2 linked regions of the Homo sapiens genome follow. The protein of the gene in region 2 interacts with the protein of the main gene of each other region in a pairwise test. Each region holds a gene or a part of one and is shown on either strand. Other genes may lie near its edges.

Evidence for each region.
Region 1: the proteins of WFDC3 (region 2) and GET3 interact in binary tests that used the Homo sapiens proteins (3 or more experiments, as listed by UniProt).

Annotation. Positions count from the first base shown.
Region 1 is NC_000019.10:12,732,578-12,746,230, forward strand, and holds the start of GET3 (ATPase GET3), read left to right. Parts: upstream 1-4,919; 5' UTR 4,920-4,928; coding exon 4,929-5,089; intron 5,090-5,933; coding exon 5,934-6,081; intron 6,082-12,799; coding exon 12,800-12,948; intron 12,949-13,031; coding exon 13,032-13,182; intron 13,183-13,653. Other genes in the region: TRIR (telomerase RNA component interacting RNase), read right to left, coding at 1,736-2,080.
Region 2 is NC_000020.11:45,771,009-45,786,617, forward strand, and holds the end of WFDC3 (WAP four-disulfide core domain protein 3 precursor), read right to left. Parts: intron 6,202-15,609; coding exon 6,067-6,201; intron 4,595-6,066; coding exon 4,409-4,594; intron 3,437-4,408; coding exon 3,420-3,436; 3' UTR 3,205-3,419; downstream 1-3,204.

The sequences.
Region 1 (13,653 bases), on a different chromosome or scaffold from region 2:
GCTGCTGGGACTATTTCCATTTTTTTTTTTTTTTGGAGACAGAGTCTTACTGTCGAGGCTGGAGTGCAGTGGCATGATCTCAGCTCACTGCAACCTCCACCTCCCAGGTTCAAGTGATTCTCCTGCCTCAGCCTCCCGAGTAGCTGGGATTACAGGTATGCACCACCATGCCTGGCTAATTTTTGTATTTTTAGTAGAGTCAGGGTTTCACCACGTTGGCCAGGCTGGTCTTGAACCCCTGACCTCAGGTGATCTGCCCGCCTCGGCCTCCCAAAGTGCTGGGATTACAGGGATGAGCCACAGAGCCTGGCCTGCTGGGATTATTTCACACCGATTTTTTTTTTAAGATACTCTCTTGTTCTGTCATCCAGGCTAGAGCGCAGTGGTGCAATCATGGCTCACTGCAGCCTGAATCTCCTGGGCTCAAGCGATCCTCCTGTCTCAGCCTCCTGGGTAGCTGGAGCTCCAGGCATGTGTGGCACCATGCCCAGCTAATTTTTTAATTTTTTTTTGTAGAGATGCATTTTTGCCATATTGTCCAGGCTGGTCTCCAACTCCTGGGCTTAAGCGATCCACCCACCTCGACCTCCCAAAATGTTGGAATTACAGGTGTGAGCCACTGCACCCAACCCACGCCCATTTTTAACAAATGAAGAAACTGAGGCTTGCAGAGGTTAGATCATTTGCCCAAAATCACATGCTGGATCCAGAACTAGAGCCCCCAGTCTTGTTATTCTCAACACTTTTTCCTCCACACTACAGGGACTTGATCTTAACACCACAGACATGGCAAGCTCAGAGCCAAAAATCAATATATGCCCTATTTACTTAATCCAGAGTTTCTCAACCTGGCACTAATAACATTTTGAGCTGGATTATTCTTTGTTTGGGGGTGGGAGGGCGCTGCCCCACGCATGGTAGGAAGTTGAGCAGCATCCCTGGCCTCTACCCATAGATGTCACTAGCACCCCCTCCCGCAGTTCTGACAACCAAAAATGTCTCCAGACTTTGCCAAATGTGGGGGTGGAGGGAACTGCCCCAATTGAGAACCACCAGTTTAGCCCTTCCTGGAAGACAGGCTCTGTGCTAACCACTTTTCCAGGATCACCTCATAAAACCCTCACCACATCAAGAGATGCTATGATGTCTATTTTTGCAACTAGGGAAAATGAGGGTAGGCAAACCCAGAGGCTCCAGGAAAGCAGCGATCTTGTCTGTAAGCTCACCACTGCATACCAGCACCTAGCACAATGCCTAGCACGAGGTAAATTGCTCAATAAATGGAGGTTGGTCGAATAAGATACAAGGAAGTCAAGCAATTGTCCTAGATAAGTAATTGTCCTTACATAGTACGTGGTCTGAGTCTAACACATATAGCTCAGAGTCCAGACTTAAATTTACTCCCTTTCCTCACAATTAGTGGTGGTCCCATGACCCAAGGTCCGGGTACCACTCAAACAGGAATCCTGATATCCACGTTTCCTCATTCTCCACAGTGCTGATTCCTAGGCAATTCCTCAGCTCCCAGTTCCCACGGGCAAGCTCCTGGAGTCCCCACTCCCGCCCCTAGACCCCAGTTGTCGGGAATCCAAGTTCCACACCCTCAGCGGGTGACCCGGACGGGCCCCTCATTCAGAACGGAAAGTGGACTTCGGTCCCGATCCCCCTTCACGGGCCCCGACTCCCGCTGCCAAGACAGGCCGTGGCGCCCGCCCCCACCCCCACGGCTCCTTACGAAGCTAAGTGTGGAGCCCGGACCGCCCTTCCTCTTCGGATCCCCGGGGCCAGCGGCGGCGGCCGACTGGTCGGGTCGCTGCGGACCCGGGGGCGGCTCCTCCTGCCGCTGCCGCTGCTCCTCCTCCATCTTCCGCTTGAACAGCTCCAGGAAGCTGCCGTCGTTGGCGAACAAGTTCACGCCGCCCGACACCGGGCTCGAACCCGCGCCCGACACCTCCTCGTCCCCGCTCTCGGGCGACGTCCCCGATCCCGACTCAGCCCAACGGCTCCCGCCACCGCCACCGCCCGCGGGGCCCGGAGCCTCCCGGCCCTGAGGCTCCGCCCGTCTCCCTCGGGCAGCCATTTTGTCGCCAGGTGCCGCGCAAAGGACTCCGGGAAGGCCGCTCCGGCCCCGCGCTTGGCGCCCGACTCGCCTCGTCCCGAACAATGCATGCCGGGAAGAGCGGTCAGGCCCTCCAGCGCCCGCAGCGGGGGCGGGGCGAATGAGGGAACCAACCCGAAGGGGCGGGGCTAGGGGGAGGAGCCCCCGTCTCGCGGGTTTTTTTGTTTCGTTTTTTTTTTTTCTTTTTTTTTCAGACGGAGTTTCCCTCTTGTTTCCCAGGCTGGAGTGCAGTGGCGCGATCTCGGCTCACCACAACCTCCACCTCCCAGGTTCAAGCGATTCTCCTGCCTCAGCCTCCCGAGTAGCTGGGATTACAGACATGCGCCACCACGCCCAGCTAATTTTGTATTTTTAGTAGAGACGGGATTTCTCCATGTTGGTCAGGCTGGTAATCTCCCGACCTCAGGTGATCCGCCCGCCTCGGCCTCCCAAACTGCTGGGATTACAGGCATGAGCCACCGCGCCTGGCCTTGTTTTTTAAAAATTAGAGACGGGCGCCTGGCTATATTGCCCAGGCTGGTCTCGAACTCCTGGCCTCAAGCGATCCTCCTGCCTTGGCCTCCCCTCCCAAAGTGTTGGGATTACAGGCGTGAGCCATCGGGCCCAGTCTTGCTGTTTTGGTTTTTGGTTTTTTGTCTTGTTTTGGAGACAGAGTCACACTCCGTCTCCGAGGCTGGAGTGCAAAGGCATGATCAGGGCTCACTTCAGCCTCGACCTCTCAGGGCTGAGGCGATCCTCCCACCACAGCCTCCCGAGTAGCTGGAAACACAGGCATGCGCCACTACGCCTGGCTAATTTTATTTATTCATTTATTTATTTATTTATATTTGTGGAGACGGGGTTTTGTCATGTTGCCCAGGCTGTTCTCAAACTCCTAGGCTCCAGCAGTCCTCTTACCTCAGCCTCCCAAAGTGCTGGGATTACAGGCGTGAGCCACCGAGCCCTGCCTCTCGGGTTTTCAAAATTCAGCAGTACTCAGGCTGGAGTTCCCCATACAGGGGCTCCCGGAGAATGAGACTGTCGTCTGAGACTGGGGCTGTAGCTTGCTCTCTGGAGTTGGTTTCACTTGGGGCTAGGAACAGATTCGCTTTCCAGGGCTAGAATCCCCGTCTGACGACACCAAGAATAATCTCTATGAGTGGAAGGACCTCATCTGGGGCTGTGTGCTCAGCTGACACCTGGGAACTTGAATCCCTAACTGGGGAATAGAGAGCATGTCTAGTCTGGGCCCCCCAAGTAGAAATAGGGGTATCTTTGGGTTGGGTAACCATCTCTGGGATAAAGCTCACATTTGTTGGGGACATAGCTGGCTCTGTGGAGCTGAAGTCCCCGTCTGAGAATCAGCTTACTTTTTTATTTTATTATTGTTATTATTACTTTATTTTATTTTGTTTTATTTTATTTTTTGAGACGGAGTCTCTCTCTGTCGCCCAGGCTGGAGTGCAGTGGCGTGATCTCGGCTCACTGCAACCTCCGCCTCCCGAGTTCAAGCGATTCTTCTGCCTCAACCTGGTCTCGATTCCTGACCTCGTGATCTGCCTGCCTCGGCCTCCCAAAGTGCTGGGATTACAGGCGTGAGCCAACGCGCCCAGCCTATTTTATTTATTTATTTAGAGACGGAGTTTCACTCTTTCACCCAGGCTGGAGTGGAGTGAAGTGGCGCAATCTCGGCTCGCTGCAACCTCTGCCCTCCGGGTTCAAGCGATTCTCCTGCTTCAGCCTCCTAAGTAGCTGGGATTACAGGCGCGTGCCACCACGCCCGGCTAATTTTTGTATTTTTAGTAGAGACAGGTTTTCACCATCTTGGCCAGGCTGGTCCCGAACTCTTGACCTCAGGTGATCCACCCGCCTCAACCTCCCAAAGTGGTAGGATTACAGGCGTGAGCCACCGCGCCCGGCCCGAGAATCAGCTTATTTTATGAGCTGTAGTATTCAGATGAAGTCGGGGTTATTTCTAGTCTGTAGTCTCCCTCTAAAGTTAAGAGTGTCATGGGCTGGGGTCTCCATCAAGGGCCTGGAACCCAGCTTCTGTTCCTGCTCTAAGACAGAGGTTCAAACATGAAATATGGTATACTGGAGTCTTCTCTTGAAATACAAGGAGACTTTTAGGAATTCCTTCTACGAAACGGAGCGCAATTGCAGGAATGGTGTCTGCTAGGCATGGGAGATCAGGGCGTACAGGACAAGACTCTGTGGACTCGCCCACTCTAAGCCACTATCAGCCCGGGGACCTATCGCCAACCGAGTCAATTCGTCTATGATTGGTTTGCGGCAAGAGCCAAGAGGCTCACAGCCTATTGAATAACAGAGGGGGCGGACCTGAGGTGAGGTTGGGACCTACCGTGAAGAATAGAGGGAAAATGATGGACATAAAGTTGAGCCTATGGAGTCAGGCCAAGGAGGACCGGGAATCTAACTTCACCGAAAGGGCATGGACTGGGTGTTTGGCTGGTTGCTAAGGTGAGGTTGGCGCTACCGGAACATAAGAGTGATTGGTGTAAGTAAGAAAAGACATAGCCAATGAAAGGAGAGCTGCAAGACCTAGGGCCCAATCAGTGAAAGGGAGTAGCCTAGACCGTACCGATGTGTTCATTAGGTAGGGGGAACCCTTGGAAAATTATAGACCAGAGGTTGACAAAGTGAACCCTGGAAGCAAAGAATAGTGAAAATATAATTTATATTTCTCCTAAAAGGCAAGTAATGAGGAAATTAACTCATGCTCCTAGCTTCGCTAGGAATGTGATAGAGAATTTCCCCTGTAGGTTCTTCGTATGGTGCGCTCCGCTGGATCACGTGAGCCAGTTCCAAAATGGCGGCAGGGGTGGCCGGGTGGGGGGTTGAGGCAGAGGAGTTCGAAGATGCTCCTGATGTGGAGCCGCTGGAGCCTACACTTAGCAACATCATCGAGCAGCGCAGCCTGAAGTGGATCTTCGTCGGGGGCAAGGGTGGTGTGGGCAAGACCACCTGCAGGTAAGGAGGCTGCGGCGGGGGCCAGGAGGCGTGTAGGATATACCACTGGGCGAAGGGGAGGCCAAGGACCGGCTTTTCCACCACGACCGGGGCATGGGGGCTGGCGGGGGTCTTTGGGTTTCACTCTCTGGAAGTTACCTGGAGCAAATGAGAAAGACCTCAATGCAGCCCTAGCACCCTCTGAGTTGGACCATCCGTGTTGGGGCTCAAGTGCCGAACCACAGTGAACTCAGCGCCCGGGGGACGGGGAAGCACTTAGATATCCCCATCAGCTGGACCGTACCTGAGTGAATCCAGAGTTGTGGGTGAGGGCGGCACCAGAACAAGCAATCCTAGTTTGGTGAACCTTGGTGTTTTATGCCCAAGGCGAGAGTGAGGGTGGAAAGCGAGGGAGAGAGCACGTGATGAGACTGTCCCAGGCAGCTACAGGCAGGAGGTGTCCGTTGGACAGATTATCCTGGACAAGCAGACTGAACCATCCTGTGCTTACTAGGGAATGCAGGAGACCCCTTAGCTTATTAAGGAAGGGGGCACGGAGTCAAGCTATGCTGGCTGGACCGCTGGGCCATGCCACTGTGCCCAGCAAAAAAGAAGCAGGCACTAGGCCAGACAGACTCAGTCAGCTGAACCTTACCTCTCTAGTCCACATAGAGGGGTCAGGAGATAAATCAGAGAGGGTTCCTTTGTAGGGACTGAGGCTCAATCCCACCATAACCCATACTCTCCTCTCAAGGCCCCTGCTGATTCGGGTCACCTGCTCCAGGGAACCTACCACTCCCCTTGCAGACCCAGGGAACAGAGCCCATCCCCTCATCCCCTATCTTTTGACTTTTCCATTACTCAGCTGCAGCCTGGCAGTCCAGCTCTCCAAGGGGCGTGAGAGTGTTCTGATCATCTCCACAGACCCAGCACACAACATCTCAGATGCTTTTGACCAGAAGTTCTCAAAGGTGCCTACCAAGGTCAAAGGCTATGACAACCTCTTTGCTATGGTGAGTGGAACAGGGCTTAGCCCCCACTTCTGGGAAAAGCCTCTTCCAGCCTTTCTTGTGCGCACACACCAGCAGCCACCGTGTCCTATCCACTCTATATCCTGTGTCTCTCGTGTTTCACTCCTTCCTCAACATACTCACAAGGGAACCAATGAGGAATTGCAGAGCAGGAAGCACACCAGAGTGCCTGAAGCTTAGTGAGCCAGGGTAGGGGAAGGAGAAGTTGGAGAGACCAATCAGAGCCACATGGTGTGGGACCTTATGGGCCACTAAGAAGTTTGGCATTGACTCCAGGTTATTAACGGGAAGCTGTTTGTTTTAAGCAGGGCAATGTCGTGGCCAAATTCATGTTTGAAAAGTACCCTTTGACGGCCAGGTGGAGATTTAATTGTCAGTCAGGGTAGAAGCAGGGAAACTAACAAGGAGATTGGGGGTGTAACCAGTTGAGAGATGACAACATCCTGGACTCTGGTGGAGGCAGAATGTTGGGGGAGAAGTAGTCAGACTTGAGGTTTTTTTTTTTTTTAGACACTCAAGACTCCTCTGTCTCCCAGGCTGGAGTGCAGTAACCCGATCTAGGCTGACTGCAACCTCCGCCTCCCAGGTTCAAGCAATGCTCCTGCCTCAGCCTCCCGAGTAGCTGGCACTACAGGCTTGCGCCACCACTGCCTGTTAATTTTGTTTTTTTTAGGAGACAGGTTTTCACCATATTGGCCAGGCTGGTCTCAAACTCCTGACCTCAAGTGATCTGACTGCCTCGGCCTCCCACAGTGCTGGGATTACAGGCATGAGCCACCACATCGCACCAGGGATGTATTTTGGAAGTAAACCAGTAAGATTACTTGGGTGAGAAAAAGAAATGAATTGATTACATGTCTTTCTTGTCTCTCTGAGCAGCTGGGATGGGGAAAACTAGGAAAGGAGTAGGTTTAGAATGAACAAATAAAGAATTTCATTTTGTCCACAGTGAATCTGAGTTGCCCACTGGAAATCCAAGTGTAAACATCATGACAGTAGCTTGTTTATGTGAGTCTGGAGCCCAGAGGAGGTTGGCATTGATTTGGAAGTCACTGTCTCAAGGGTGGCATTTAAAGCTGTGTGAGGGCTGGGCATGGTGGCTCATTCCTGTAATCCTAGCACTTTGAGAAGCCAAGGTGGGCGGATCACTTGAGGTCAAGAGTTTGAGACCAGCCTGGCCAACATGGTGAAACCCCATCACTACTAAAAATATAAACCAATTAGCTGGGCATGGTGGCAGGTGCCTGTAATACCAGCTACTCAGAAGGCTAAGGTAGGAGAATCGCTAGAACCCAGGAAGCAGAGATTCTCCTGCCTCAGCCTCCGGAGTTGCTGGGATTACAGGTGCCTACCACCATGCCCGGCTAATTTTTGTATTTTTAGTAGAGACGAGGTTTTCTCACGTCTCAAAAAAAAAAAAAATTGGCTGGGCGCAGTGGCTCACTCCTGTCATCCCAGCACTGTGGGAGACCGAGGCGGGTGGATCACAAGGTCAGGAGATCAAGACCCTCCTGGCTAACACGGTGAAAGCCCATCTCTACTAAAAATACAAAAAATAGCTGGGCATGGTGGCAGGCGCCTTTAGTCCCAGCTGCTCAGGAGGCTGAGGCAGGAGAGTGGCGTGAACCCCGGAGGCGGAGCTTGCAGTGAGCTGAGATCGCGCCACTGCACTCCAGCCTGGGCGACAGAGCAACACTCTGTCTCAAAAAAATAATAAAGGCCGGGCACGGTGGCTCACATCTGTAATCTCAGCACTTTGGGAGGCTGAGGCGGGCAGATCACAAGGTCAAGAGACTGAGACCATCTTGGCTAACACGGTGAAACCTCATCTCTACTAAAAATACAAAAAAATTAGCCAGGTATGGTGGCGGGCACCTGTAGTCCCAGCTACTCCGGAGGCTGAGGCAGGAGAATGGCGTGAACGCGGGAAGTGGACCTTGCAGTGAGCCGAGATCGCGCCACTGCTTTACAGCCTGAACAACGGAGCGAGACTCAACAAAAAATAATAAATAAAAATAAAATAAAATAAAGAGATGCTGCAGAGTGAGGATGCTGGCAGAGGACAGTCCTCAGGTGGGATGAGCTCCATCCAGCATACAGACCCAGAACTTGGGCGCTGCCAGGGTCAGGGACTGGGAGGGAAACAGGAGGAATTGGGGCACTTCCCGGGCAGAGATGAGGGTGTTGGCAGCCAATGGCTTCTCTTTCTCACCAAGGAACAGGCAAGGGTCTCAGCAGTGAATGGGATAGAAGTTTGAGGAGGGAGAAAATACCACATAAACACTTATTAAGGTAGCAGGGGGAACCAGAATTGTCTGGATCATCAAGTGCCCATTGGAGATTTGTGTTCAGAAGAGGGGAGCAAGGGCGGGCGTGGTGGCTCATGCCTGTAATCCCAGCACTTCGGGAGGCTGAGGCAGGTGGATCAGAAGGTCAGGAGTTAAAGACCAGCCTAGCCAAGATGGTGGAACTCCATCTCTACTAAAAATACAAAAATTAGCTGGGCATGGTGGCTCACGCCTGTAATCCCAGCACTCTGGGAGGCCGAGGTGGGCGGATCACAAAGTCAGGAGATTGAGACCAGCCTGGCTAACAGGGTGAAACCCCATCTCTACTAAAAATACAAAAAGTTAGCCGGGCGTGATGGCGGGTGCCTTTAATCCCAGTTATTCGGGAGGCTGAGGCAGGAGAATGGCGTGAACGCGGGAGGTGGAGCTTACAGTGAGCCTAGATCGCGCCACTGCACTCCAGCGTGGGTGACAGAGCAAGACTCCATCTCAAAAAAAAAAATACAAAAATAAGCCAGGCACGGTGGCTCACGCCTGTAATCCCAGCACTTTGGGAGGCTGAGGCGGGCAGATCACCTGAGGTCGGGAGTTCGAGACCAGCCTGACCAATATGGTGAAACCCCGTCTCTACTAAAAATACAAAAATTAGCCTTGCGTGGTGGCCGGCACCTGTAGTCCCAGTTACACGGGAGGCTGAGGCAGGAGAATTGCTTGAACCTGGGAGACGGAGGTTGCAGTGAGCCGAGATCATGCCACTGCACTCCAGCCTGGGATACAGAGCGACACTCCATCTCAAAAAAAAAAAATTAGTTGGGCCTGGTGGTGGGCGCCTGTAATCCCAGATACTCGGGAGGCTGAGGCAAAGAATTGCTTGAACCTGGGAGGCGGAGGTCACAGTGAGTCGAGATTGTGCCACTGTACTCCAACCTGGATGACAGAGCGAGACTCCGTCTCCAAAAGGGTGAGGAGCAAGATGGGAATACTCTTCAGGAGTGTTCGGCCCTCAAGTGCAGTGATACTAAAGAGCTAGAAAGCCATACCTATCATTTCAGTGCTTGCAGAGACTGAGACAAGAGGATCACGTGAGGTCAGGAGTTCAAGACCAGCCTGGGCAACAAAGGGAGACCCTTTCTCTACAAAAAACAAACAAAATTAGCTGGGCATGGTGGTGTGTGCCTATAGTCCCAGTAAGTTGGTAGGTTGAGGCAGGAGGATCATTTGAGCCTAAGAGTTTGAGGCTGCAATGAGCTATGTATGAGATGGTATCTTTTTTTTTTTTTTTTTTGAGACTGAGTTTCACTCTGTCACCCAGGCTGGAGTGCAGTGGTGTGATCTCAGCTCACTGCAACCTCTACCTCCTGAGTTTAAGCGATTCTCCTGCCTCAGCCTCCCAAGTAGCTGTGATTACAGGCGCCCGCCACCACATCCGGCTAATTTTTGTTTTGGGGGGGTTTTTTTTGTTTGTTTTGAGACGGAGTCTTATTCTGTCGCCCAGGATGGAGTGCAGTGGCGCAATCTCGGTTCACTGCAACCTCTTCCTCCCGATTTCAAGTGATTCTCCTGCCTCAGCCTCCCGAGTAGCTGGGACTCCAGGTGCATGCCACCATGCCCGGCTAATTTTTAGTATTTTTAGTAGAGACGGGGTTTCACCATGTTAACCAGGATGGTCTCGATCTCCTGACCTCGTGATCCACCCGCCTTGGCCTCCCAAAGTGCTGGGATTACAGGCGTGAGCCACCGCGCCTGGCCTGTATTTTTTTTTAGTAGAGACGGGGTTTCAACATGTTGGCCAGGCTGTTTTCAATCTCCTGACCTCAAATGATCTGCCTGGCTTGGCTTCCTAATACACTGGGATTACAAGTGTGAGCTACCGCGCCCGGCCAAGACGCTATCTCTAAAAGAAAGAAAAAAAAAGCTGGAAGTAACCAGAGTGGGGGATTTTGCCAACAGCAAGGGGAAAGGGAGTGTTTGCAGAGGGAACCTGTGGAGGCTGGGCTGGATAAGGGTGCCAGCCAAGAGGAACACTGACAGTTTACAGGGGCCAGGTGAGGGGATGAAGTAGTCCAAAGAAGCTTAAAATATATGAAGCATAAGAAGAGGGTGCAGTGATGAGTGGGCAAGCTCCCCAACAGGGAATGACCCCTAAGGCCAGCGAGTTGGGTACTTCCCCATGGGACCCATGAAGTTACCAAGAAGAGGTGACAGAGGAGGAAGATAAAGAGGGAGGCATTGGCCGGGCATGGTGGCTCATACCTGTAATCCCAGCATTTTGGGAGGCTGAGGTGGGTGGATCACCTGAGGTTGGGAGTTGAAAACCAGCCTGACCAACATAGAGAAGCCCCGTCTCTACTAAAAATACAAAATTAGCTGGGGTGGTGGCGCATGCCTGTAATCCCAGCTACTCAGGAAGCTGAGGCAGGAGAATCACTTGAACCCTGGAGGCGGAGGTTGCAGTGAGCCAAGATCACGCCATTGTCCAGCCTAGACAACAAGAGTGAAACTCCATCTCAGAAAAAAAAAAAATTACAAAAATTAGCCAGGCATGGCCAGGCGTGATGGCTCGTGCCTGTAATCCCAGCACTTTGGGAGGCCGAGGTGGGTGGATCACGAGGTCAGGAGATCGCCACCATCCTGGCTAACACAGTGAAACCCCGTCTCTACTAAAAATACAAAAAATTAGCCAGGTGTGGTGGCGGGCGCCTGTAGTCCCAGCTACTCACTGCACTCCAGCCTGGGTGACAGAGCGAGACTCCATCTCTTTTTTTTTTTTTTTTTTTTTTTTGAGATGGAGTCTCGCTCTGTCGCCCAGGCTGGAGTGCAGTGGCGTGATCTCAGCTCACTGCAGGCTCCGCCCCCTGGGGTTCATGCCATTCTCCTGCCTCAGCCTCCCAAGTAGCTGGGACTACAGGCACCCGCCACCTCGCCCGGCTAATTTTTTGTATTTTTAGTAGAGACGGGGTTTCACCGTGTTAGCCAGGATGGTCTCGATCTCCTAACCTCAGGTGATCTGCCTGCCTCGGCCTCCCAAAGTGCTGGGATTACAGGCGTGAGCCACCACGCCCGGCCAAGACTCCATCTCAAAAAAAAAAAAAAAAAAAAAAATTAGCCAGGCATGGTGGGGCATGCCTATAGTCTCAGCTACTCGGGAGGCTGAGGCAGGAGAATTGCTTGAACCCAGAAGGTGGAGGTTGTGATGAGCTGAGATCGCGCCACTGCACTCCAGCCTAGGCAACAAGATCAAAACTCCATCTCGGGAAAAAAAAAAAAAAAAGAGGGAGGCATTGAGTCTGAGACTGGCCAGGGACCCCAGCCATGGCCATCCCTTCATAGATTCTACATACATGTTTGTGTTTTGTTTTGTTGTTTGTTTTTTGAGACAGAGTCTCCCTCTGTCACCCAGGCTGGAGTGTAATGGCGTGATCTCGGCTCACTGTAACCTCTGCCTCCCGGGTTCAAGCGATTCCCCTGCCTCAACCTCCAGAGTAGCTGGGATTATAGGCACCCGCCACTATGCATGGCTAATTTTTGTATTTTTAGTAGAGACGGGGTTTCACCATGTTGGCCAGGCTGGCCTCAAGCTCCCGACCTCAGGTGATCTGCCCGCCTCCGCTTCCCAAAGGGCTGGAATTACAGGCATGAGGTACCGCGCCTGGCTGGATTCCCCATATGTGCTGACGACCTCTGTGCCAGGCACTGTTCATGCTAAGCGCTAAGGACACAGCAGTGAACTAGATGGTAAAACCCCTGCCCCTGAGGGGCAGACATTCCTGCTATGGAGACAGATGATAAACATGATAAGGGAATCATGAGGGATGTGAGGAAGGGCTAATTTTTTTTTCAGATAGGTCTTGCTATATTGCCCAGGCTGGTGTCCAACTCCTGGGCTCAAGCGATCCTCCCATCTCATTCTCCTGAGTACCTGGGACTACAGGCGTGAGCTATCCTGCCCAGCTCCTAAGGGCTAAACCTTAAGGAGAAAGGAAGGCAGGGCAGGGGTGTCGGTGGATCTGTGCTGTTACTTAGGGTGGTCAGGGAGTCTCTCAGTGGAGGGATGATGATCCGGAAGAGGTCATGGCCCAGTCATGGGAGTATCTGGGGTTGCAAGTGGCAGGTTGCAAGTGGGGAGTAGCAGTGTAAATGGCCCGCAGTGGGTTTCAGCTTCCCTTTGAGGGCCCTGGGCACAGCTTGCAATTTTCCCCTTGTTTTTGACCCTTTATGCAACCATACAAAACCCTAAGTACTACCTCAGGGTCCCCCCAGCCGTGACCTAATGAAATGCCTGTGGTCACAGCCCACCACAGGCTCCCTCTGGCCCTGTGCCCGGGTAGGAAGGCTCCCCCTGGCCCTGTGCCCAGGTGGGAAGGCTCCCCCAGCAGTAGCAGCAACCTCAGTCTCATCCCTTTGGCCCCCAGGAGATTGACCCCAGCCTGGGCGTGGCGGAGCTGCCTGACGAGTTCTTCGAGGAGGACAACATGCTGAGCATGGGCAAGAAGATGATGCAGGAGGCCATGAGCGCATTTCCCGGCATCGATGAGGCCATGAGCTATGCCGAGGTCATGAGGTCAGGCCCAGCCAGCAGGGGTGGGGGCTGCCTGGGGAAGGGGAAGAGCGGACACAGAGGGCCTGACCCCTGTCTCCCCTCAGGCTGGTGAAGGGCATGAACTTCTCGGTGGTGGTATTTGACACGGCACCCACGGGCCACACCCTGAGGCTGCTCAACTTCCCCACCATCGTGGAGCGGGGCCTGGGCCGGCTTATGCAGATCAAGAACCAGATCAGCCCTTTCATCTCACAGGCAGGCGGCGGGGGCCCCCACCTGCACCATCCAGGCAGCCGGGAGTGGGAGTAGGCCCGGGCCCCCAGACCCTCAAATGCGCACTAACAATTCCCTTTCCTTCCCACCCCTTCTCACTCTGGACTTCTCCCTGGAGGGGATGGGACGGAGCTGTCTTTCCTCCCCCACAGGCAGGACTCAGTGTCCCTGCCCCTGCCCGCTAAATACCCTAGACAGAGCCAGAAAGCACATTCCAGAACCAGGCAACCTGCCTTCAAACCCTCTACACTCACCATGTGACCCAACTGCTGTGTGACCTCAAGCAAATCACTTCACCTCTCTGGGCCTCACCTTCCTTGTCTTGCAAATGGAGATCATGAGAGTGCCCCATGGGTTATTATTATTATTATTCGAGACGGAGTCTCGCTCTGTCACCCAGGCTGGAGTGCAGTGGTGCGATCTTGGCTCATTGCAACCTCCACCTCGTGGGTT
Region 2 (15,609 bases):
CCCTGCCCATTCTCACACTAACTCAGAGGGAGAAACTTTTTCTTGATCTTGAGCTCCACAGGGAATTTGACCCTGTGGCTTTGTACAAGAAACACTAATACGACATAGTGGGTAATGTCCCCCATATCAATGTTACCAGAAATGAAGCAGCATGCCACATCATATGAAAACAGAGGGCATAATGTTAGGTCTTAATTTATTAAGTGCAGTTCAGTCGGGATCCAGGAGCTTAGACAGCTGATAGCAAGCTTTCACTTTATCTTTTAGAATGCCCTTTTGCCCTTTTGAGTCTCTTGCCTGGAAATGGTCTATGACAGACCTCTGCTGCCCTCTGGTGGGCAGAGCATGAAGCACCCAGCAAAGAATTCTTTCCAGTCACATGGCCTCTTCTTTGTTTATATTGCTGAATCTGTGGGAAGCTGGGCTTCTCCACACAATCCCTTGAGGAGAAGGCTTAACTTGTATATGAAAGGAAAGACACCTCTCCCAACTCAAGAGCAACCCACTGCCAGGATACGCTCTGGGCCTCCTGCCTTCCTCACCCCACTTACACGCCTTACCAATAACATCATGCCCCCACGGGAGCAGTGGAGGCTGCAGGGGCCCATGGTATTGCTGGGGCCAAGGGCACATATGGAGTCTGAGATTTCTACAACCAGATGGTCAAGAAGCAGGGTGGAGAAGGGAGGAGCTGCGTGGTTCTGGTCAAAGAACAAGTCTTTCTCAGCCTACACTGGAGCCCCAGACATTCCTGCCCACGATGAGGAAGCTGAGGAGCAGGGCGGGGGAGAAGGGTGGCTTTTCAACCTGGTCAGAGGCTAATTTCGGGGTGCAAGGTGAGAGAGTAGGATCACGGTCCACTGAGACCTGCTCCTGGGTCATTTCCACCCCAGGACCAAGGCTGAAATGGACTTAAACCCTGAGGAAGGAAAGGTTCTAATGGCTTCTTTAGTTCAGGGTCCAACAGTAGAGAAAGCTGCCCAGAAAGACCTGGGGGTGGGAATTTGGCCCCAGCTCAGCCTTTAACCGCCAGCTTTCAAATTTAACCCTTCAGCACTCTCTCTCATCTCTATCTCTCTCTCATCTCCATCTCTATCTCTCTATACATCTATCTATCTCTCTATCTCTCTCGACGTTGCTACCTGTAAGCAGGTCAGCAGCTCCCTCTGGAAAGGGTGAGCCTCCAGACGAGGAGGAAAGGTCTGCAAGGAGCAGCTCTCCCATTGCTCAGCCTGAGCTGTGCCTGGGGCTCACACCTGTCTCTCCAGTCCCACTCTCCACCCTGACAGAACATCATTCTGCAATATGAGAGGATTCCCAGACTGTTGTTTTTCATTGAAAGTTCTACCATACTGATGATTTTTTTTTTTTTTTTTTTTTTTGAGATGGAGTTTCGCTCTTGTCGCCCGGGCTGGAGTGCAATGGCAGGATCTCGGCTCACTTGGAACTTCCACCTCCCAGGTTCAAGCAATTCTCCTGCCTCAGCCTCCTGAGTAGCTGGGATTACAGGCGTGCACCACCAAGCCTGGCTAATTTTTGTATTTTTAGTAGAGACGGGGTTTCACCATGTTGGTCAGGCTGGTCTTGAACTCCTGACCTCAAGTGATCTGCCTGCCTTGGCCTCCGAAAATGTTGGGATTACAGGCGTGAGCCACTGCACCCGACCACTGCTGAGTGTCTGTGCCTTCTCCCCCTTGTTTTCATCCTGGCATGTGAAATTCTGGTTTCTACCTGGTTCAGAACATTTATCTCTTTTCAGTACAGTAGACATGTCAATGTTGCCTGATCTGAAAAAGAGTGGCTGGCATGAACCTCGCAGTGGCCAACCCAGAAACATCCATGACTCCAGGATCATGTTGCAGGGAACTGGGAAGGGCCAGTGTCTGTGTGATGGGCTGCTGAACATTTTGGCAGATCCCTCTTCCACTGTTTTATCATTTTGTTGTTTATTTAAAAACTCGAATACATGCACATAGTTTTTTTAAAAATCATTATATCATCACACCACCACACCCGGCTAATTTTTGTATTTTTAGTAGAGACAGGGTTTCTACTAAAACAGTCAAAGGCACAGCTACTCAGAAGGCTGAGGTAAGAGAATTGCTTGAGCCCAGGAGGCGGAGGTTGCAGTGAGCGGAGATCGTGCCACTGCACTCCAGCCTAGGCGACAGAGCAAGATTTCGTCTCAAAAAAAAAAAAAGATAACTAGTTAAATAAATTACCCATTTCATAGAGTTCTATTAAAAGAATATACGTGATGACATGAAAGATCTCCAAGATACACAATATAATCCATTTCATATAAATAAAAAACATAACTTTAAAAAATTATCTTGGTCCCAAGAACCTAGGGATATCCCCTCCCTAAAATAAAGCTACCTGGAGGGGACAAACTGCCTGTCTTGGAGCCAAGGGCTGGCCCTCAAGGAAGGAGGTCCAAGGTGGGAACATTCCAACATCTATAAGAAACTAGCCACTCGGCTGGGCACAGTGGCTGACGCCTGTAATCCCAGCACTTTGGGAGGCCAAGGCAGGCAGATCACCTGAGGTCAGGAGTTCAAGATAAGCCTGGCCATCATGGTGAAACCCCGTCTCTACTAAAAATACAAAAATTAGTCAGGCATGGTAGCGCGCCTGTAGTCCCAGCTACTCGGGAGACTGAGGCAGGAGAATCACTTGAACCTGAGAGGCAGAGGTTGCAGTGAGCCAAGATTGCGCCACTGCACTCCAGCCTGGGCAACAGAGTGAGACTACATCTCAAAAAAAAAAAAAAACTAGCCACTCACCCTTGTTCCACCCTCAACCCACATTCTCCAATAAAAGAAAGAAGGTCAGCAGGTCTAAAAGAGACTGACCTCCACCCCCACCAGGGCTTGAGAAAGACATCTATGGCAAGTCACTCTCAGTTTAGTTTCCACCCTCAACCCACATTCTCCAATAAAAGAAAGAAGGTCAGCAGGTCTAAAAGAGACTGACCTCCACCCCCACCAGGGCTTGAGAAAGACATCTATGGCAAGTCACTCTCAGTTTAGTTTCCACCCATCTCTTCCCTAGCCACACCCAACCAAAACCCATTTTCAGTGTCCTCACAAAGAATGGATTACCCATCTGTCCTAAATATGTAAATCGTACAATCCCACAGGCACACACATACCCTCTAGCTCTCCCATATCATCTGAGCCCTCAAATAGCACAAACAAGAGGTCAGCACCAGCCTTTATCGGGAAAGAGAAGCACCACACACCCACTACCCAATCCAGGGCTATTTCCCATGCTCTGGTCAGCGGCAGGAGGAGAAGCAGAGCAGAGAGGGCCATGAGTGCCCCTGGAAATGTCACAAGCCCCAGGATGTCACCCTCTCTTGACTGCCAGGAAAAGCTTCCAGAATTACCAAAGAAGCTCCAGACAAATCAGCACAGCTAGGGCACCGGGATCTCTGCAAGTAGAAGAAACATCAAGTCACAGCTGTGCCCTCCTGGCTTCAGCTACCTGAAATGTTTTCCCTCCACCCTAGGAAAGCTTGGCCTATATTGCTCTCAAAAGTCTTAAATAGCTCCTTGCTTCCCAGACAATCCAATCCAAACTGGCACTGAAGGCTCTTATTATTCAGATGTCAACCTTGTATCTCCTGTTATAAAAAACTGGAATTATGGTCGGGCACAGTGGCTCATGCCTGTAATCCCAGCACTTTGGGAGGCCAAGGTGGGTGGATAACCTGAGATCAGGAGCTCGAGACCAGACCTGGCCAACATGGTGAAACACTGTCTCTACTAAAAATACAAAAATCAGCTAGGTATGATGGCAGGCGCCTGTAAATCCCAGCCTTGGGAGGCTGAGGCAGGAGAATTGCTTGAATCCAGGAGGCAGAGGTTGCAGTGAGTCGAGATTGTGCCATTGCACTCCAGCCTGGGTGACAAGAGTGAAACTCCATCTCAAAAAAAAAAAAAAAAAAACTGGAGATACGTCTGTTCCTTTACCCACCCTGCCCCCACTCCTCACCTCCCAAACATATCCCACACATTCCCACCCTGTGTTCCTTTGCCAGCAATCACCAGATTGCCTATCTGGCATGTCCCTGTGCTATCCTCCCTTTGTCGCATCTGCCTAGCCTTAAGCACCTCAATCAAATCCCACCTCTCCCACAGAGACCTTCCCAGGGAGCCACACCTGGGAACAGGTGTAAGCCTGTACTGTTTATATGAGGGTTCTCATCTGGGACACAGGTTTGCCACACCTGAGAACAGGTGTAAGCCTGTACTGTTTGTATGAGGGTTTTCATCTGGGACATAGGTTCTTTCTCTCCAACTAGACTTTTCCTGACCTTCTGAAGTCCCCTTCCCAGCACCTAAGCCAGTGCTTTGCACATAGCAGTTGTCTGTTATTGTTGATGACAATGGACTGTACTCACCTAATTCGGAATCAGACCTCACAGTCCAGTTGGGGTTCATGGTCAGTTTTGGGGGCAGGACTGGTGGGACACAGAAGCGGCCACAGCCTGACTTGCAACATTTTTCTCCAGCTTGACAATTCTCATCCATCACACAGCCAACAATGCACAGGCCCACCAGAACTTTTGGACAATCACCGCCCCGCCCTGTGGGAACAACAGGCACAGGAAAAGGGACAGGGCATCAGCTCTGCCATCTCCATGTTCCCATCGTGAACTTACACACAGAGGCTCTAGGTCAATCAACCCCTGACCCTCACTAGACCCAACTAAACTGGCTGGGAAACCATGGCGCTGGAGGATCTCAGAATCTTTAGGAACCCAAGAGACCTCTGAGCCCAGAGTTTTCAAATGGTGCCCCAAAGGGAGTTCCCAAGAGGTAACTCAGGGATTGACACCTCTGCAGGTTTGGGGTGGGGGTGGGTGAAGTGTGGCAGGGGCAAGCCTCCCAGACCACTCCCCCTCCCCCTATGCTCTGGATTCATAGTGTCACTTCTTCACGGTGGCCTCCTCTGCCACCCTAGACAAGGTTTGATGTCCCTGCTTTGTGCTCCTGTAGCACCCTGTATGCTTCCTCTCATCAAACTTTATCATAATCCCTTATTTAAAAGGAATATGTCTATCTTGCCTGATGGGCTATAAGCTACATACGGACAAGAGTCTGTCCTCAGCCTTGAGCACTGCCTGGGAATCTAAAGGGACTAAGATAGCACAAGGGTCAATGATTCTTTAATGGAGATCCACAGTGCCTGGCACTCAAAAATATTTGTTTTTTTAAAATGTTGAAGAAAAAAAGGCATTGGAACAGGAATGCTTTTATCTCTGTGTGTGTGTGTGTGTGTGTGTGTGTGTGTGTGTGTGTGTGTTTCCAGCTGGGCGTGGTGGCTCACGCCTGTAATTCCAGCACTTTGGGAGGCCGAGACAGGCAGATCACGAGGTCAGGAGTTCAAGACCAGCCTGGTCAACATGATGAAAACCCATCTCTACTAAAAATACAAAAATTAGCTGGGCATGGTGGCGTGTGCCTGTAATCCCAGCTACTCAGGAGGCTGAGGCAGAAGAAACCCCAGAGGCAGAGGTTTCAGTGAGCCAAGATCACGCCACTACACTCTAGCCTGGGGTACAGACCAAGACTCTGTCTCAAAAAAAAAAAAAAAGAAAAAAAAGAAAAAAAAAAAAAATATATATATATATATATATATATATGTGTGTGTGTGTTTCCAACTAAGATTTCATTTGGGGCAGGGGAGAAGCTTTTTGTTAAAAATTAGATCTGAAAATCAGGATCTTGGGCAACTCCTTCATTTTACAGATAAAGAAATTTGGGCTCAAAAAGACGGGTTTGCTTACCTAAGGTCACAAAGCAAAACCTCAGCAGAATCAAGACCAAAAGCCACACTGTCTGTCTTCCAGCCCAAGTAGTTCCTACTGCCCCACAGTGCCTTCCCCCAGTTCTTTTAATGTCGACAGGGCCCCTCGGCCCTAGAAGAATGGGTTGCTTTGGGTTGGGGGACCAGAGGGACAGGAAGGATGAGAATCCTAGCTCCTCCCAGGAAGGGAAAGAGAAGCACTCTTCTCAGGAAACACTCAAGGATTTCTTCCCAAAAGAGCCAACATACCTCCCTCAATGTCTCCGAGGCAGGTGCGGCCACAGCCGGTGCTGCAGCATTTATGCCCCTGGGGACAGGATGCATCCCCATCACACAGCTCCTCACACGGAAGGGGGTCAGCGGGACATTCACCACCAAACTCTGCTACATAATCAAAGCATTGGAGCCCAGAGACGCTCACAATATGAAACACATTTTTCATTGTGTCCCATGTGTATGTTTATATATAGTTATATATTTATATACATATATAATGTAAATATTTATGTGTATCATGTATCTGCAATACATCTGATTTTTTTTAAGACAGGGTCTCACTGTGTTGCCCAGGCCAAAGTGCAGTGGCATAATCATAGCTCACTGCAGCCTCAAACTCCTGCATTCAAGGGATCCTCCCACCTCAGCCTCCTGAGTGGCTAGAACTACAGGCACATGCCATCATGCCTGGCTTATTTATTTATTTATTTTGTAGAGACAGGGTCTCACTGTATCACCCAGGCTAAAGTACAGTGGCACAATCATAGCTCATTGCAGCCTGAAACTCCTGTGCTCAAGGGATCCTCCCACCACAGCCTCCTGAGTACCTGGGACTAGAGGCACAAGCCACCAGGCCTGGGTAATTTTATTTATTTATTTTGTAGAGACAGAGTCTCACTATGTTCCCTAGGCTGATATCAAACTCCTGGCTCAAGTGATCCTCCCGCCTGAGCCTCCCAAAGTGCCAGGATTACAGGCGTGAGCCCCCCCACCCAGCCCACCCTGATATTTTATATTCTAGTTCTTATTTTTCCTAATTACTAAATTGCTTTCAGGACTCACAGTTTGAAAAACACTGTTCAGGTCTAACCCACTGTGGCCAACATTCTCCCTGAATTCTCCCTGTGGCAGACATTTACAATGGTGGCCTCCAGTGAACTTTACCTCCTGGGATTCAGGCCCTTTTGTAGTCCCCTTCCATACCTACTCTGGGTTTGACCATCTGACTTGCTTTGACCAATGGGACATTAGCAAATGTAATGTAAGCAGAGCCTTGATAAGCACTAGCATACTGGGGCTTGTCCACTCAGAATACTTCCTCTTGGAAACCAGCCGCCATGCTATAAAGCAGCTTGAACTACGCTATGGGATGATGAGATGCCCCATGGAGACAGAACCTAGAAGAGAGGTCATCCTGGACGTTGTGGCTCCAGTTGAGCTCCCTGCTAAGCTCCCAGATGAATGCAGCTAAATGAATGACCACAGCTACATCATGTGGGTATATGAACTGCCCAGCCAAGCTCAGGCAACCTACACAACTGTGAGAAAGAGTAACTATATTGCTTTAAGTCATGAAGTTTGGAGATGGTTTCTTATGCAGCAATAGATACTGGATACCAAGTTTATTCTGAGAGGCAACAGGTCCAGCTAAAATGATTTGTTTCCCCATACTCTCTTGCAACAAGGGGTGACCACAAACTAGGACATAAACTGGGAAACTTTTGTATTCCTGACACAGGGAATACCCCTTTCAAACTGCTCCCTCACTTCTTTCTTCTTCCAGTCCAAAGATAGACATTACACAGAGAGGCAGAGTAGCCTTCTTTCAATGAGGAGGCAACTCAGCATAACGAAATGGTCAAGAATTGCAAAGAGGTGTTGTATGAAAGGAGAGAAGGTTAGCACTCCCCTCGACAAGGATGGAAGAGGCCTTTGGGCCTGACAACATGCATATGGTTCAAGCATTGCCACCTACTTTGTGGCATCTAACCATCGTCTTTTAAAATAAATAAATAATAAAATGTAAATGTAAAAAAAAAAAAAGAATTGCAAAGGAGAAAGAGGGAAATAGTTTCATCCTTGTTAGCATCATGGAGCCACCATCCCAGCCTCAGGAATTCTTGTTATATGAGAAAAACAAACCCCTATATGATTAATTTTCTGTTGTGTGCAGCCAAACACATTTCCTATGAAAATAAACTCAGAGAAGAATCTTGCCCAGAACTACAGAGTGAGTCAGCAGCAAGGCAGGACAACACTCAGCCTCTTGATTTGCGGTAAAGTACTTTTTCTACTACACTATCCTTAAAACATGCAGGCAACTGGCCAGGGCCCCAGGCGCAGGCACACCCAAAGAAGGCCACATCCAAACCAAACCAATTCACCATGACTCATTCATCTTAGTGTTTATTTCAAGCTTCTTAAGTAAAGAGAAAGGTGACAGGCAATTAAAGATTTCGCAGAAAACCAAAGCAAGACTGGCCCAGTGCCTCTGAGTAGGAACAGGTAAGTATGATTGCATACAGCTGGCTCTGGGAAGTCTGCCATGATGGAAAAAGCAAGTATTGGAATCCAAGGAGAATACATGCAGCTAAACAACCCAGGCGTAGTAACCCTGTATCCTGAGATTTTCCTGAACAGCCCCTATTTCAAATATCCTGTGCTACTGTGAGATCACATCAAAACTATGTGTCCTGATTTTTGACTCAGAAAATGTGGTCACTGTAACCACCAAATGCATCTCCCTGCACCTCCCCACCTGCTTGACAAACACTGAAATCCATTTAACAAGGAACAAAAGCCTTCTATCTCACAGCTGAGAAGGCTGGGAGTAAAAATCTCCCTGGTGGAAAAACCCGGTGACATAAACATCTCATAAAATTATGCCATGTGCCCTAGAAACTGGGAGTGCCATACGTCCCAGATTTCACCATTTTGCTGAGCTTGACCTTGAGATGACCAATGCCAGGAGCTCTCTGCTACTCTCTGCCCTCGTCCTCAAGACCAGGCATGGAGCACTTACCTCTACCCTTTTCCAGGCCAGGCTTCCTGGAGGCCCAGAGGGTCACAGCACCTCGCTTTTGACCAGTGCCCAGCAATGCCACCCAGTCTGACACCCTGCCTTATATGAATCCCTGCCACGTGATCCCTTTCTCTCAGCTCTAACACCTGGAATTAATGGGGCCTCACTACCTCCAAGCCAGATTATGCTATCCTACTTAAGCTAGACAGCCTTTATACCTTTTTTTTTTTTTTTTTTTTTTTGAGACAGGGTCTCGCTTTGTCACCCAGGCTGGGGTGCAGTGCCGCAATGGTGGCTTACTGCAGCCTCAAACTCTTGAACTCCTGGGCTCAAGCAATCCTCCAACCTCAGCCTCCTGAGTAGCTGAACTATAGGCACACACTACCAGGCCCAGCTAATTATTTTTATTTTTTATAGAGACAGGGTCTCACTATGTTGACTAGGCTTGTTTTGACCTTCTGGCCTCAAGCAATCCTCCCGCCTCAGCCTCCCAAAGTGCTGACGTCACAGGCATGAGTTACCATGCCTGGCCCTTTGTACCTCTTTATACTGACCTGAAATCTGGCTGGGCCTTTTCCTATCCCCAGAGACCTTACAAAAACCTGGCGGATGCCATTCTTTCAGGCAGGATCCTCTGTCTTTCACGATCCTGGCTTTGCCATGCTAGGTAAGGTCAGTTCCTCATAAGACATGCTCCCTAATCACCTCACAATTAGCTTACCAGGAATCAGGAAGAGAAATAGGAACAGTAGCCAGAATGGGGATGACGGTTCCCCACCCTCTATCAGCACCCATCCCAAGACTCTAAGCTATCACCAAAAAAGGAGTGAAGCTGAAGCCCAGGAAATACTCACTCACAGTCTGTCCTGCTGCCTCAGCTCCAACCTGCCACTATGTCTGAGAGAAAGATGCCAGTTGTTGTTGGAAAAGTAAAATTTCAGCACTTCTTAACCCAAGAAGGGCCCTCTGAGCTAACAAACTTACTCCCCTTCTCTTGTAAATAGAGAGACAGACAACTAGAGAGAGGGATTGGCCTGAGGTCAATGGTAGCAGAACTGAGTCACAAATCCCCAGCTCTGATATAAGGTCTCATGCCCTTTAAACCACATCATGGGCCTGGCTCAGTGGCTCATGCCTGTAATCCCAGCACTTTGGGAGGCCAAGGTGGGTGAAACACTTGAGGTCAGGAGTTCAAAACCAATCTGGCCAACATGTTGAAACCCTGTCTCTACTAAAAATACAAAAAAAAAAAAAAAAAGCCGGGTGTGGTGATGGGTGCCTGTAATCCCAGCTACTGGGGAGGCTGAGGCAGGAGAATTGCTTGAACCTGGGAGGCAGAGGTTGCAGTGAGCCGAGATCACACCACTGCACTCCATCCTGGGTGACAGAGCGAGACTCCATCTCAAACACACACATAGACACACACACACACACATCATCATGATCCCCTACACTGCAGCAAGGATCACACAAAAACCAAGAAGCACTGGGACTCACTCTGCCCAGTTCCACCAAAAGAGAAGATCCAGTGGTAGATAGTTTTAGAGGTTAGGAAAAGTTATCCACCAGTGTGTAGGCAGTCCTCAAGACCACTTACTTCCAGGTTCAGTGATTCATTAGCAGGACTCAGCGTATAGTCATACCCATGGCTATGATTTATTACAGCAAAAGGATACAAAGAAAAATCATCAAAGGGAAAAGTCCAGAGGAAATCAGGTGCTGATTTTCAAGAGTCCTCCCGGTAGAGTCACAGGATGCACTTAATTCTTCCAGCATGGAATTATGACATGTGTGAAGTGTTTTCTACCAGGGAAACTCATTAGACACTCACTGTGAAAGTTCTCTACTGGGGGCTGGTCACTTAGGCACCCTCTGCCTAGCACGTACCAAGATTCCAGACTCTCAGAAGGAAAGCAGATGTTCAGCCTAAACCACAATGTTTACACAAACAGTTTAGGCACAGTGAACCACTCTTATCAGTTAGAGTAGTACAAATACCCACAAAATCCAAGTTCCCAGAAGCCAGCCAAGGCCCAGCCTTGCCAGCAAGCCTTTTTAAGAAGAGCGGTCTCAGGCTTGTTATGTTAACTCTTTTCTGTACAACCTGCAGTGAGGTTTTAGAAAAGGGTCAGCCAGACACCCAGGGAGGCCATGCCATCAGCCCACGTAAAAGATAATACATATATGTTAATAAGCAAAACAGAGGGTCACAGGGGATCTGGAGTGGTCAGGTTTCATACAGTGGGGAGGTGAGCCATGAGGAGGCCCAAGAAGACAACTGTCAGGCCAGAATCAGAATCTTCACTCCAAAACCTCTTCCCCCAGGTTGTCCCTGTCTCAGTAAAGAACACCACCATCACCCAACTGCTCAAGCTGAATATCTACCACCCTTCTTGATACCCCGTCTCCCTCAATGCCTGCAGCCACTTACTTGTTCACCCAGTCCCATTAATTCTACCTTCACAAACATGTAAGCCTTCCATTTTTCTTTTTCATTGTTATTGGTTTTTTGGGGGCTTTTTTGTTTTGGATTTTTTTTTTCTTTTTTTTGAGATGGAGTTTCGCTCTTGTTGCCCAGGCTGGAGTGCAGTGGTGCGATCTCGGCTCTCTGCAACCTCCACCTCCTAGGTTCAAGCGATTCTCCTGCCTCAGCCTCCCGAGTAGCTGGGATTACAGACGCCCACCATCATGCCCGGCTAATTTTTGTATTTTTAGTAGAGATGGGGTTTCACCATGTTGGCCAGGCTGGTCTCAAACTCCTGACCTCGTGATCTGCCCGCATTGGCCTCCCAAAGTGCTGGGATTACAGGCATCAGCCACTGCGTTCGGCCGCCTTCCATTTTTCTATGTCTGCAGTATCTCCAACCCAGTCTAAGCCCCGATCATCTCTCCCAGCCTGCCACAATAGCCTCCTAACTGGTCTTCCATCTTCTACACTTGCCCCCATCCATTCTTCATATACTGGCAGAGTGGTCTTTTTAAAATGAAAACTGGACAAGGCCTCTCCTGCTTTTAAACCCCCTCAAAGGCTTCCTATTGCACTTAGAATAAAGCCTAAGAGAGAAGCCCTGAAGACCCCCGAAAGTCTGGGCCCTGCCTACCTCTCCAACCTCAAATGAAAGCAGCCTCCTTCTCTCTTCTTCCTTTACCTTCAAAGCACTCATGACTCATCATCATCTTGGGGTTATTATGTATTTGTTTTCTTGATTATTTCCTGTCTGTCACACTATATGAGCAAGCCCCAGGGTGGCAAGGACCACGGCTGCCTTCCTCACCACTGCAGACCCACATGCCAGGTAGGGTAGCCACACTCAATATACAGTGAATACATGAATAAGTGGGTGAGTAAACGGATAGGTCAGGCATCAGATAGGTGGGGAGGCAGAGAAGGGGCGGACCAGAACACAGAGGTACTTGGCATGACCATATGAGCTCTCTTGAGCATTATCTGGCAGGTTTACTGCAGACTTTTTTAAATGCATTTCTGGCCGGACACAGTGGTTTGTGCCTGTAGTCCCAGTTTCTCAGGGAACTAAGGCAGAAGGATCACCTGAGCCCAGGAGGTTGAGGCTGCAGTGGGCTGAGATCACACCACTGCACTCCAGCCTGGGTGATAGAGTGAGACCTTGTCCCAGATAAATAAATAAATAAAATGCATTTCTTCTCAACTGCATTATCACTCTGGGAGCTAAACATCCTTATCCCCATTTTACAGATAATAAAAGTGAGATTCAGAGAAATGAAGGGACTTGCCCAAGGCCACACAGCAAGCAAGCAGAAGAGCCAGGATTCAGACCCATGTTCAGACTAGAACAGTGTCATGAGAGCAGGACCCAATGTCTGCCCTTGCCCTCAGGCAACCTGACTGAACCTCCACTTTGCCAAACAGACCAGCGCTGGCTATGGTAAACCTCTGGCAATGTCAGAGCTTAAGGAAAGCGAAATTTTTCATAGCCCTGGAAGGAGAGCTTCCTGTAGAGTTGGGTATAGCAACCAGTCCTGTTGGGTGAGTAGCCTAGCCCTCCCCTAGGGCTGGAGCTATACAAAAGTAGTTAACTACCAATGCAGTAGCCAGTATCACCTCCCACCAGGCTAGGAACCCCGCTCAGCCCAGCAGGCTCTGGGACATCTGCGGGAGATCACTATTCTAGCCTGCCTGCCAAGCTCCAGTGGAAAAGGAAGCCCTATCTGGGCTGGCCAGGGGCCAGAGCAGCTCACAAAGGTACTGTGCCTGGGTGCCAGCCTCGCCCTTAGCCCCTACAATTCAGCCCTCAGCTTCAAACACTGGGAAGATTGTACCAAGCCCTACATGCCAGCAGTCAGTGACCTGCCTGAGACAGATTCCCAGGCTGGTTCCAGAGCTGGGCCTCAAGAGTCCTGGCAAGGAGAACAACCTTCCATTCTCTCTAATGGGCAGGCTGCCCAAGATAGCTGCCTAAGCCGGGCACAGACAGACCCAATGGGTACCAGCAAGGGGCCTCCTACCTGGAGAGGTTTGACTGGAAGGAAAAAGGTTGTCACATGTTACAGGGCTTCAGGTTCTGAGAGGAAGTGATCAGGGAAGAAGAAAACCATCCTGGTTTTGAATAAAGGGGCTGGTGAGAAATTGTACTCCTGCTGGGCATGGTGGCTCACACCTGTAATCCCAGCACTTTGGGAGGCCAAGGCCGGTGGATCACCTGAAGTCAGGAGTTTGAGACCAGCCTGACCAACATGCTGAAAAGCCGTCTCTACTAAATACAAAAAATTAGCTGAGCATAGTGGCACATGCCTATAATCCCAGCTACTTGGGAGGCTGAGGCAGGAGAATCGCTTGAACCTGGGAGGTGGAGATTGCAGTGAGCCGAGACTGCACCACTGCACTCCAGCCTGGGCAACAATAGCGAAACTCAGTCTCAAAAAAAAGAAATTGTACTTCTGACCCAGGCCACTTAGGAGGCAAGAGGAAGGAAGTTAATATATACTGAGGGCAAAACACTTTACATAATTTGAATAATTACAACAAGCCTTCGAGGTTTATTCTTCCCACCTTACAGAGAAGGGAACTAAGGCTCAAAATTACTTGCCCAGGGACCTGCTGGCCAGTAACTGGCAAACCTCAGGCTTGAACCCAGGACTCCGACAACCCAAACCTAGGATTTTCCACTCTAACATCCACCACATGCACTCAGATAAGAGAATGATTCCAGTTCCTTTAGAAAACATAATGAGAAATATTCAAAACAGCAGAGAAGAAAATAAAATACCTAGGCATAAATTTATGGAGAAATATTTTAACACTATAAAACACCCTGAAATATGCAAAATACACTTGATCAACAGGGAAGGCATAGGATTCAACATAGGCCAGGCACAGTGGCTCATGCCTGTAATCCCAGCATTTTGGGAGCCAAGGTGGGCAGATCACCTGAGGTCAGGAGTTCGAGATCAGCCTGACCAACATGGCAAAACCCCATCTCTTCTAAAAATACAAAAATTAGCTGAGCATGGTGGCACACGCCTGCAATCCCAGCTACTCAGGAGGCTGACGCACAAGAATGACTTGAATGTGGGAGCAGAGGTTGCAGTGAGCCAAGATCACGCCACTGTACTCCTGCCTGGGCGACAGCCTGTCTCAAAAAAAAAAAAAAAAAAGAACATTTCAGTACCATAAAACAGGGTAAGAAAAAAAAAAGATTCAACATTATAATAACAGCAGTTCTCCTTAAGCTAATTTAATTTATATATCTAACATCACTCCAGTGAACGTAGTCTTGGTATTTGGGAATGATGGAAGAAAAATAGATAATATTATAATAAAATATATTTGGAAGCACAAATAAGCAAAAGTAGCCATGAAAATCGTGAAACAAGAGGAAAATAGGAAGGGGTTAGACATAGAAGACATGCCATCAATTTCTAATATGTTTTAGGGGCCTCTCAAGGGAATGGAGAAGGAATAGAGCAGAGAGCCCTGTCACTTCTACCTCCAAATTTTCTCAACTATGTCACCTTTCTCCATCCCCGCTGCTACCTCCCTAGTCTCACGGGTCTACATCCTCATCTGCCTTCATTCTCTCCCTCCCATTTCTACTCTAACCGTACTAGCTTTCTTTCCATTTCTCAAATGTGGCAAGCTCCTAGTCATCTTAAGGCCTCTGTGTGTGCTTCTCTCTCTCCCTGGAATGTCCATCGCACCCTTCACCTGGCTAACTTCAAATCGCTCTCCAGGTTGCAGCTTAAATGTCACTCCACACATGCCATCCTCAACCACCCAAACCAATGTGAGTTCTCAGCCGGGCACGGTGGCTCACGCCAGCCCTTGGGAGGCCAAGGCAGGTGGATCACTTGAGGCCAGGAGTGTGAGACCAACCCAGCCAACATGGTGAGACCCCATCTCTCCTAAAAATACAAAAATTAGCCAGGTGGGGTGGCATGTGCCTGTAATCCCAGCTACTCGGGAGGCTGAGGCAGGAGAATTGCTTGAGCCCAGAAGGTAGGTGGAGGTTGTAGTGAAACAAGATCGTGCCACTGCACTCCAGCCTGAGCAACAGAGCAAGACTGTCAAAAAAATAAAAACAAAAATAAAAGTGAGTTCTCCGCTTTACTCTGTCTCTCAGCACCCTTTAATTTTCCTTCCCTGTCCTTATCAGAGTTTGAAATTATATATTTATTTACATGCTTATTTGTTAAACCTCTTTCTCTGCCATGAGACTATGAGCTCCATGAAAGCGGGCATGGGATCTACCGTATTTTCCACAATATACCAGGAGCCCGTCACTGGATCTCGCAAA